2 separate regions of the Homo sapiens genome follow, and region 2 is reported to be linked to region 1. The links are microRNA targets in miRTarBase. Many come from high-throughput screens and were not tested one by one. Region 1 holds a microRNA gene; the other region holds the end of a gene's coding sequence.
What was found. Region 1 holds the annotated microRNA hsa-miR-589-3p (UCAGAACAAAUGCCGGUUCCCAGA, at 2,901-2,924, opposite strand). A microRNA usually pairs through its seed, bases 2 to 8, with sites in the 3' UTR of a target mRNA and lowers its output. Matches are read on the target gene's strand: a 7mer-m8 pairs with bases 2 to 8, a 7mer-A1 pairs with bases 2 to 7 and ends in A, and an 8mer does both.

Region 2: miRTarBase lists SEMA6D as a target of hsa-miR-589-3p. Seed matches in the 3' UTR shown: 7mer-m8 at 3,711-3,717.

The regions. Positions count from the first base shown.
Region 1 is chr7:5,492,934-5,498,110 of GRCh38, forward strand. MIR589 (microRNA 589) reads right to left here and starts at 2,984; the gene lies at 2,886-2,984. All of the region lies in intron 3 of FBXL18 (F-box and leucine rich repeat protein 18), which reads right to left. RefSeq lists enhancers at 2,128-2,207, 2,278-2,327.
Region 2 is chr15:47,771,106-47,776,105 of GRCh38, reverse strand. SEMA6D (semaphorin 6D) reads right to left here. Exons shown (of 19, transcript NM_001358351.3): 19 at 1,878-5,000. The coding sequence ends at 4,321. Among named protein-coding and RNA genes, the nearest start is that of SEMA6D, 56 kb to the right of the region's middle.

The sequences.
Region 1 (5,177 bases):
TGTGATCAATTGTCCTGGCAGCCCCAGGATCCTAGCACAGATGCTGAGGGCAGCCACAGCAGAAGGCGCCACAGGCATGGAGATTCTTCCCTGGTAGGTGACACAAAAAGACCAAGTCACGGCGGGCATGGTGGCTCACACTTATAATCCCAGCCCTTCAGGAGGCCAAGGCAGGAGGATCACTTGAGCCCAGGAGTTTGAGAAGAGCCTGGGCGACATAGTGAGAGCCCAGCTCTACAAAAAGTACAAAAATTATCCAGCCATGGTGGCACGCACCTGTACTCCCAGCTACTCGGGAAGCTGAGGTGGGAGGATCGCTTGAGCCCAGGACTTCGAGGCTGCAGTGAGCTAGGATCGTGCCACTGCACTCCAAGCTGGATGACAGAGCAAGACAGTCTCGATCTGTTGCCCAGGCTGGAGTGCAGTGGCGTGATCTCAGCTCATTGCAAGCTCCCGGGTTCACGCCATTCTCCTGCCTCAGCCTCCCGAGTAGCTGGGACTACAGGCGCCTGCCACCGCACCCAGCTAATTTTTTGTATTTTTAGTAGAGATGGGGTTTCACCGTGTTAGCCAGGATGGTCTCAATCTCCTGACCACTTGCTCCACCCGCCTCAGCCTCCCAAAGTGCTGGGATTACAGGCGTGGGCCACTGCACCTGGCCAAAATTTTTTTTTTAAAAGAATAAAGGAAGTGTGGCTCATGAGAGACTGGTTATTTACTTTTGTGTGTGTGTGCGTGCGTGCGTGCGTGCGTGTGTGTGTGTGGAGACAGGGGTCTCACTATGTTGCCCAGGCTGGTCTCCAACTCCTGAGCTCAAGCAATCCTCCTGCCTCAGCCTCCCAAAGTGCTAGGATTATAGGCGTGAGCCACCATGCCTGGTAGTTAATTTTCTTTTAATTGATTTAAGCAGAAATTCTCAGCCAGGTGCGGTGGCTCACGTCTATAATCCCAGCACCTTGGGAGGCTGAGGCAGGCGGATCACCTGAGGTCAGGAGTTCGACACTGGCCAACATGGCAAAACCCTGTCACTACTAAAAATACAAAAATTAGCCAGGCAGGCCGGGCACGGTGGCTCATGCCTGTAATCCCAGCACTTTGGGAGGCCGAAGAGGGCAGATCACCTGAAATCGGGAGTTTGAGACCAGCCTGACCAACATGGAAAAACCCCATCTCTACTAAAAATACAAAATTAGCTGGTCGTGGTGGCACACACCTGTAATCCCAGCTACTCGGGAGGCTGAGGCAGGAAAATCGTTTCTACCTGGGAGGCAGAGGTTGCGGTGAGCCAAGATGGCACCATTGCACTCCAGCCTGGGCAACAAGAGTGAAACTCCATCTCAAAAAAAAAAAAAAAAATTAGCTGGGCGTGGCGGGGCATGCCCATTATCCCAGCTACTGGGGAGGCGAAGGCAGGAGAATTGCTTGGAGGCAGAGGATGCAGTGAGCTGAGATCACACCACTGCACTCCAGCCTAGGTGACAGAGCGAGACTCTGTCTCACACAAAAAAATAAATAAATAAAATTAAATAAATAATAAAATAAAACATCCAAATTGTCTTTATTTTTCTATATTTGTTTTGTTAAGCTATTCAGATTGTTTTTATTTAAAGATAGTAATAAAATGTTTTCATTACGTATATTTTAAATACCACCTCTCCCTAAAAAAATCCTAAAGTAAACAACCCTTTGCAGACCGGAAGGTGGGAAACGGGAAGGGGTAAAAAAGACGGTGCAGGCGCCGCACCTGCTGAGCTGCAAAGTCACCTCTGGATTTCTCTCCAAAGCAAAAGCAGGAGGCTCCAGACAGCAGGAGATGGAAACGGGGCGTTGGGCAAGGACGGTGCCGTCGTGTGGTCACTAGGTGGCGATGCGGCTCCGTGCTACCCGCCCCAGATCGCCCCGAGCCTCTGGGGTTAAAAACCAAGTCTGCAGAGCGTGGAAAAAAAACCTTTTTTCCACGAGATAACCACATCCACATTCTTCCGCCCCGGAGGAAGTCACCTGTCACAGGTGTTCAGGATGTGGCAGGCCCACGGGAGTGACTGGTCAGGCAGCGGGCCTGGCACGTCTAAAGCTTCCTAGGCTCCCACAGCACGCCGCCTGGGGCACGGCACCCAGGACGGTGGCAGAGCTGACCTGACTCGAGTGACCGGCAGCGTCTGCAGGGAGGATGGGGACGAGGAAAAGGCTCCCACTGCGCCGGGCCTCACCTTTGAGTGAGGATCCAGCCTCCCCATTCTGCTCCCTGAGGGGGCACCTGGGTCTCCTGGTGACTCTGTGGGCATGAAAGGTGCTGAGCTCACAGTGCGGGGGCTCCCATCTGGCCACCCACTGCACGGGCCGTGAGAGCAGCACCCAGGCCTCCGAGGTGTCCCTAGGGTGGCTCCGGGGCCTGGCTCTGAAAAGGATGGCCCGCTTCTGCCCAGACGCTGCCCTGGTCACGCTCACAGCAGCCCGGGTGACTCAGGGTGACACGCTCCCCCGCCCTCCACCGCAAGCAGGGCTTAGCTGGTCTAGGGAAAGAAGGTGTCTTTTCTGCCCAATTTGTAATCCCCTTACTACTGAGGTGTGTCCAAGTCCCAGCCAGAGCGACTCCTTCCTGCACCACCCCCTCCCTGCCAGGAGCCCCAGCAAGCACAAAGCTGGGGGTCACGGTGTGGGGGCTGCCAGTGGCAGCAGGTGGCTGGCGTGGGATTCCAAGCTCTGCCACCAAAGAGACTCCGGCCGCCCCAGGATGCGGCCTCGGAGCATCGTGCCAGCCTCCAGGGATCCCAGCGCCGTTTCCTCTGCACAGCTCCTGCCCACGGGCAAGCGAGTGCCACCTGCTCCTTCCACTGCAGCGTCCGGGCTCCCTTGCCGCAGAAGGCAGGAATCCAGAGGAACGGGGCCAGCTGGCAGCGTCTGGGAACCGGCATTTGTTCTGAACAGGCAGTACCCAGCTCAGAGCAGACGTGGTTCTCAGGGGCTGCTGGGCACAGGCTGGAGTTTGTCCACAGAGATGGCATTATGAGCAGGGTCGGTCTCTCAGGCTGGCCCACAAAACCCACAAAACCCACAGAACCCGCAGGCCTCTCCGCGCCTTCTCCATGGCCCTGCTCCTGAGGAAGGCCCTTGGCCACGGGGATTCCGTCCCAGACTCCGGAGGCCATCGGGGACCATGAAATCACGCTGACCTCGGGAGGCCGGAGACAAGCAGCCATGTGACCTAGGCAAGTTCATGCACTCTCTGGGCCTTACTTTCTTCATCCATTAAGTGGGTACAACTGTGTCGACACTCAGAGGTTGTTGAGAATATCAAAGGGGTCAAGACCTGTACACCCATGAAAAGCACCTGGCAGAGGTCACATGAGCCCAAAGGTCCCCTCCACCCGCGGTGGCTGCCGTCACCTCTGCCTCTTGCTTCCGGAACACCCCCTCCCTCCGGCCAGTGCCTCCCTTGCTGACAGCCTCTGCTCGGTCTCCCTTCCACATTCTTCTTCCTCTTCCTGGCCAATCCTTGTCACGTGTGCCCCAGCCCAATCCGTGGGCTCACCTGGATCCATAGGTGGCTAAAGGCCACCTATGAGCTGAGGACGCCAAAGCAACTCTCCCAGGCCAGACCTCAGCCTGGACTCAGGGCTTGGCTTAGGCCCATCAACTAGGAGGCCACACTTAACAGACTCTCCGGACCGGGCACAGTGGCTCACACCTGTGATCCCAGCCCTTTGGGCGGCCCAGGCAAGAGGATCACTTGAGCCCAGGAGTTCAAGACCAGCCCGGGCAACACAGCAAGACCCCGTCTCTACAAAAAATACAAAAAACTAGCCAGGCGGCCGGGCACAGTGGCTTACGCCTGTAATCCCACCACTTTGGGAGGCCGAGGTGGGCGGATCACCTGAGGTCAGGAGTTCGAGACCAGCCTGGCCAACATGGTGAAACCCCGTCTCTACTAAAAATACAAAAAAAAAATTAGCCGAGTATGGTGGTGGGCACCTGTAATCCCAGCTACTCTGGAGGCTGAGACAGGAGAATCGCTTGAATCCAGGAGGCAGAGGTTGCAGTGAGCTGAGATCATGCCATTGTACTCAAGCCTGGGTGACAGAGTGAGACTCTGTCTCAAAAAAAAAAAAAAAAAAAAACTAGCCGGGCATGGTCGCATGTGCCTATAGTCCCAGCTACTCGGGAGGCTGAGGTGGGAGGATCACCTGAGCCAGAGAAGGTCGAGGCTGCAGTGAGCTGTGATCATGCCACTGCACTCCGGTCTGGGAGACAGAATGAGACCATTTTTAAAAAAAAAAAGTGGGAAAGCCCAAATTTTACATGCATTTTGCGTCAAATTTCTAAAGCAGGGAGATTCTGAAAAGTCGCCCGTCTGGTTCTCAAAGCAGTCGCCCGTCCTGGTTCTCCAGGATGCCTGGGTCAGAGCATGAATAACCACCCCGCTCCCCACGCACGGAGCCTCGCAGTGGCTCGAGCTGAGAATCAAAGCGGCCGATCCAGGGCCTGGTGACTCCACCAGACAGGAAATACAGAGGCTTCTAGCAATCTGCTCTGCCATTTGAAAGTCCTGGGTTTGATCCTGCGCTTCTCAACCCAACACTAACAGGTCTGCAGTGGGAGGAGGTCGAGAGGGAGGGTGGCGCCAAGCTGGCTGCATGGCCGGGGGACTCCAGGGTGTGAGCCTCCAGCTCGGCTGCTCCCGAGCAGACCCGGCCACTTCCTGCCATGCCTTCTGCGGGAGAGGGGAGATTTACAAGGGGCGCCCTTATCTCTACTCTGCATGGCTCCAGGGCCAAGGTCAAGCACCGGTGTTTGCGAGAGACTCAGCTCCCCCTGAGCTCCCACAGCCTCATCTGGGAAATGGGAATGATCAAGGCTGCAATCGCAGCAGATTATGGCAGGGAGGATGGGCTCAGTGCATGGCTCTCAGCAAAGGCACAAGGTGAATGCTAACTATTCTGGGGACAATGACACGTGCCCACGTGCCCCTTAGGCTGGAGCATGACTTCATGTACCCGCAACCCACCCCACCAGCTAAGGACTCACAGAGACACCAGCTCACTCATCTAAGCCCTGCCTCCACTTTCTCCCCCACCCAGTCCCTGGTAGTACTGAGGCTCAAGGCCTTCACTACCTTTTGGGTAATTTTTTTTCTTTTTTCTTTTTACTTTTTTTTTTTTTTTTTTGAGACCGAGTCT
Region 2 (5,000 bases), not on the chromosome of region 1:
CCAGGGTAACCAAGTGCTTAGTCGATGGCATTTCTGGAACCAGAGCACAGTGCCTTGTCCTGGTTATTGTATTTGTCCCATTACTCTCTGGTTTTATGGGCTCCCTTTGAAAAAAGTCCCAAGTTCCCTTACCCTACTTCTCTCAAATGGGATCTGAGCATTTATCTTGAGGATTCATAGATGTGATTTTAGGGGACTGTAAATGTCCTGGAGAGGAAAGGGAAATGCGCCTTTCAGTCCATAGCATTCATTAAATTATCAAAAATGTCTATGATGGAATAAGGCTAAGAACTTCTATAAGGGAGAAAAGAAAGGTGCATTTTTTAGAAGAGAAAAAAATCGTTGAACTCAGAAAAACTAGTAAACAGGCAGTAGGTATAATAAACACCAATTTAATGGAAACAGGCAATGCAAATGAATGATAATGCAATGCTAAAGAAGCCTAGGAAGAGGCTGCGTGTGGTGGCTTATGCCTGTAATCCCAGCACTTTGGAAGGCTGAGGTAGGTGGACCACCTGAGGTTAGGAGTTCGAGACCAACCTGGCCAACATGGTGAAACCCCTTCTCTACTAAAAATACAAAAATTAGCTGGGCATGGTGGTGAGTGCCTGTGCCTGTAATCCCCGCTACTCAGGAGGCTGAGGCAGGAGAATTGCTTGAACCCGGGATACAGAGGTTGCAGGGAGCCGAGATCGTGCCACTGCACTCCAGCCTGGGCGACAGAGTGAGACAAGCTTGGAGATGCATTTCCCTTGTGTCTTCTTTCATCCATTTGTTCGAAATCTGAGTTACAAATTGACTTCTGCAAGTCAGTAAGATGGGAGACACCTTCCACCCTCTTCTCCAGCACTATAATGGTGTGCACTTACGCAGACTTCCTTCCAATGATAGGGTAGTTTGGAAGGCCAAGGTCAGGTTCTGTGGCTGGTGGCACCACCTGTGGTGCCAGGAGCTGTGAAATGGGGCAAATAGGCCATCCCCTGGTCTTCTTCTCTCACAAAAAGATTCCTTCAAATTTTTCCTCATGTCTCTGGAGTATTGCATGCTATGATAGGAATAAACAAGGACTTCTGATACCACTAAATTGACACTGAAATGCAGCACCCCTAATTAGATGACACTATCAAGGAGAATAAGACTCGAGACAGGAATATGGCCATTCTGCTGTTCAGCAAAGATGCTGCTGAAGCTCCTTGAGAAAACATGACCACATGGGAGCTGCAGATGGGCTTTGGCCAGGAGTAGCAGCTAGAAACAAGAGGGCAGGGATTGCTACAGCCTACCCCTGTTGTCTCTCTCAGAAGTGGCCTGCCACTGTCAACATCCACGAGAAGCAATGACAGCAGCCACCAACTCATTACGTGCTAAGAGCAAGCCATGGAATCATATTGTTACCTCTCATTTCAATATTTAGGGAAGAGAGCTCCTAATTTATTCTATTTGTTTAAAACAAGGGAACTGAGAAACTCCTTATACCAAATAGCAAGAAATGTTCACGGGAACCCTGTTTGCCAGTTATAATTTTGAACTATTACGTGAAAAATTTCACGCAGGAAAACAAATCATGAATTTTAAAAATGTCTGTTGAACTAGATAGATCTATGGACAATGTGAACCACTACTGTTTGCCTAAAGCATATGACTGTTGACGTAGTACAGTTCAACTGGTTTTCTGAACAGTTTCTCATTTTTTTCAGGGGCTCTGACCTCCAGTGTCAGCCTTCCAAGGAGAGAATGGTAGTGTAATCATGACTGGAGAGCAACTGTTCCAGATAAGAATATTTTGGCAGATTTTAAAAGCAACTATTACTGGTGTTGATTGACTTAAAAATATTTTAAAAATATAACATGTTATAAACCTCTTCAATATCAAGAGGCAGGATATAATGATTTGTATATTTTATTTTGACTTTACATGCGGTGTTAAAAACCCAAAGTACATATTATTTACACATCCACAATACAAGTTTACAAGGTATCTATTCATGTTAAAGTACTCTATAAAACAGTATAGAGACACTTCACTTGAGGGTTACTTTTTATGCCGTACCATTAAAAAAGATACAATCTGCGTTTACCTTTGCACAAATGGATAAAGCATTTAAAAATTAAATTAACAGGATAGAGACTAGATTTAATGTTAGAAATTTCAACATAAATACTGATTGAACTCACATTACAAACTACAAGGAAGCACAATGTTACAAAATGTTATCTGGGGTCACATAGAGTTACTGTTCTGTTTTACACACGCTGGGATTAATATTGGTAAGGTGAATTCAAACACGTTTGTTGTTGGTGGACTGAGTAGTGTTTATCATTGGTTGGTTTAATTTATTATTAATCTGTAATATTTTAGTTGCAAAGCTGAAGTGTTTCAAGAACAGAAATTTTAGCTTTAGCGCTTCCAGAGATCACTGGAAATCACGTTCTTTATAAAACAATGTTCTTTAAAAAAAAGAATAACTGTATCAGTATTTCACATTCTGTATAAAAATGATCTGGTCTTCTGCAACATGTCCTCCCCCAAGTAATAGGTACCAACAGTATTGTCAAAAGAAATCCAGTTGAACTCATTTGCCTGATTACAGCAGGAGCATACCTCTGCCTTGGTACTTTCTAGATTTGGTTCACTAAACAAGTGTGTGGTGTGCAGCATATTAACTGAAACAGTCAGCAGGGTTGCGCATCATCAGCCGTAAGTGGTTTCTGCCAAACTACGTATAAATGACGCTCTATAGTTTCTGCAGGTGTCACATTACCCAGGAAACCTCATTTGAGTTCACATTATCACTGTTTCATCCTTAGGAAAGCAGGAGTGGAATGTTTATCACGGCAAAGAATGTAATGCTGCTATGAGGTCGGATTATGTAACAAATAATTGTCCTAGGTTGTTTCTGTGATTTTTTGAAAAGAGTCTTTTTAGGTGCTGGTTGAAAAACATTTACAACTGGCACTCAGTAAATAATGTGCTATACTGAAAACACTTGACAGATTTTAGTACTTCTATCATTCTCATGAATAAGGCACAAAATGCACAGATTCAGGTAAACTCACATGTGGTATTTACAGTATATTGTCATTACCTGCATGACTTAGGAGAAAATTCTCACATAACACAACACAGACAACATGATTGCACCACTGTTAGGTTTTTACAGACTGTTTCTGTTAAGCCAATTACAATTCCTTTCATATGTCTTTCTTTTGTCTTCTATTTTTGTTTGTTTGTTTGTTTTTTGTTTCTTACCTTGGGGGGTAGGAGGAGTTAAAGGAGGAGAAATTTTACTATTGGGGGGGGGGAAACGAACACAATCAAAATAAAACCTTATTAGTGTGTCCAAGGTTAAATAGAGTGACTCAGGCTTTGATTCACAGTGGACAGGAAAATTTTACTACTGAATACTGGAAAATAAATCAAGGATACCTCTTAATATCTTGATCTCCTTAAGCTGGCAAGACTGGAATACAAGTTTTAATGAATAGCAGCACAAAATCACTTGCAACTCTTACATTCTGGCATTGGGTACCACATAAGTAAAGTTCATCATTTTGATGGTCAAAGGAGCCTCGATTCTATTCCTCTTTCAAAGCTGAACCCAATGGACTCCTGTGGGAAATAGTATTGTCTCTCGTTCGGTCATGCTTAATGTAAACAACTCCATAGCACAAAAAGATGCAATGGGCACCTAAACAAATCCTAGTGGGTACAGAACACACACACACACACACACACACACACACACACGCACACACACAACAAGTTTGTTGGTGGCATGAAAAAGATGCCACACATGAAAAAAAAATGCTACAGCTTGGGTCAAAGATTGAATTTTTAGCAAACTGCTTGGTAATCTACAAGTTCATTTCTTTGAGATATTACCATCTTTTTTTTGACATTTGTGCAAGAGGCAAGGTGAATGCATACATATTAAAATGTTCACATTTAATGGGAAGACCACACATAATGGCAGTCTACATTGAACCCATTTTCAAGTATTTGTTCACAGATTCTTCTGAGTACTGTTATCAGCTCTTTATACTGGTAAGGTAGCCCCTGTGAGCTACACATCTCTTTAGCTTCAAACAAAAGAAATGGAATGACCAGCACCTTCCTTTGTTTTCAGGCAAGTACACAGAAGCCTTGCTGCAGTAGCTACATGTGGCAAGTTCTGATGTTGCCAAAGTTAGAAAGAGTTTCTTTGGCCACTTGGTTCTCTTAAAATACAAGCGAGTCTCTTGTTTTAAGGTACCCTTACAACATCATCCTCTCAACAACACGGACAGGATAAAGCCACATGGGAATAGCACACTTGAGGCCTAGTATGTGTATTTGTTCAGTGGTCTGACAGATGGGGTTTGAGGAACAAAGGAAGGCTTTGGTGGCACGTCAGGTTTTAAGGACGGCGTCCTCTTTAGTCCCGTCCTAGGAAGAGTGCCATTACTGGTGTAGCTGCTCTGTCTGGAGAGGGAAGGCTGCAGATGAACACTCACTGGTGTTCCCTGAATATAGTCCACCTTCGCCCCAGTGGGGGTGGGCATATATCCTCCACGGTTCATACTAGGCTGTCTGGATAACAAAACACCATTTGGTGAGTTTAAGTTTTTAGGCATAGCAGATATAGAGTGCCTCTGGGAGGAATTTTTGTGATAACCTCTTTGTCTTTCCAGAGAAGTCATTGGGACTCCAGGAGTGGTGGGGACATCCACTCGCTTGGTTGGGCTATTTCTGGGGAGAGTTGAAGGAGGGGAGTATAGCGATGCCTCCCGGTTAGGGACTTTAGGTGGGACCTCAGACATCGATCCCATGGGATCCAGCATTAAGTTCTGGTGTGCCATCTGGATGTCTCCCATGATGGCTTTGGGGTTACTATTTGGGTCATTCAGATGCTTCAGGAGATCATTGAGGGTATTTCTGGAATCAACAGAACGCCGGTGATCTCTCTTACTGGATGACTTTGTGAGAGGGTGATCAATGTTTTGAAGCTTCTTTTCAGCTT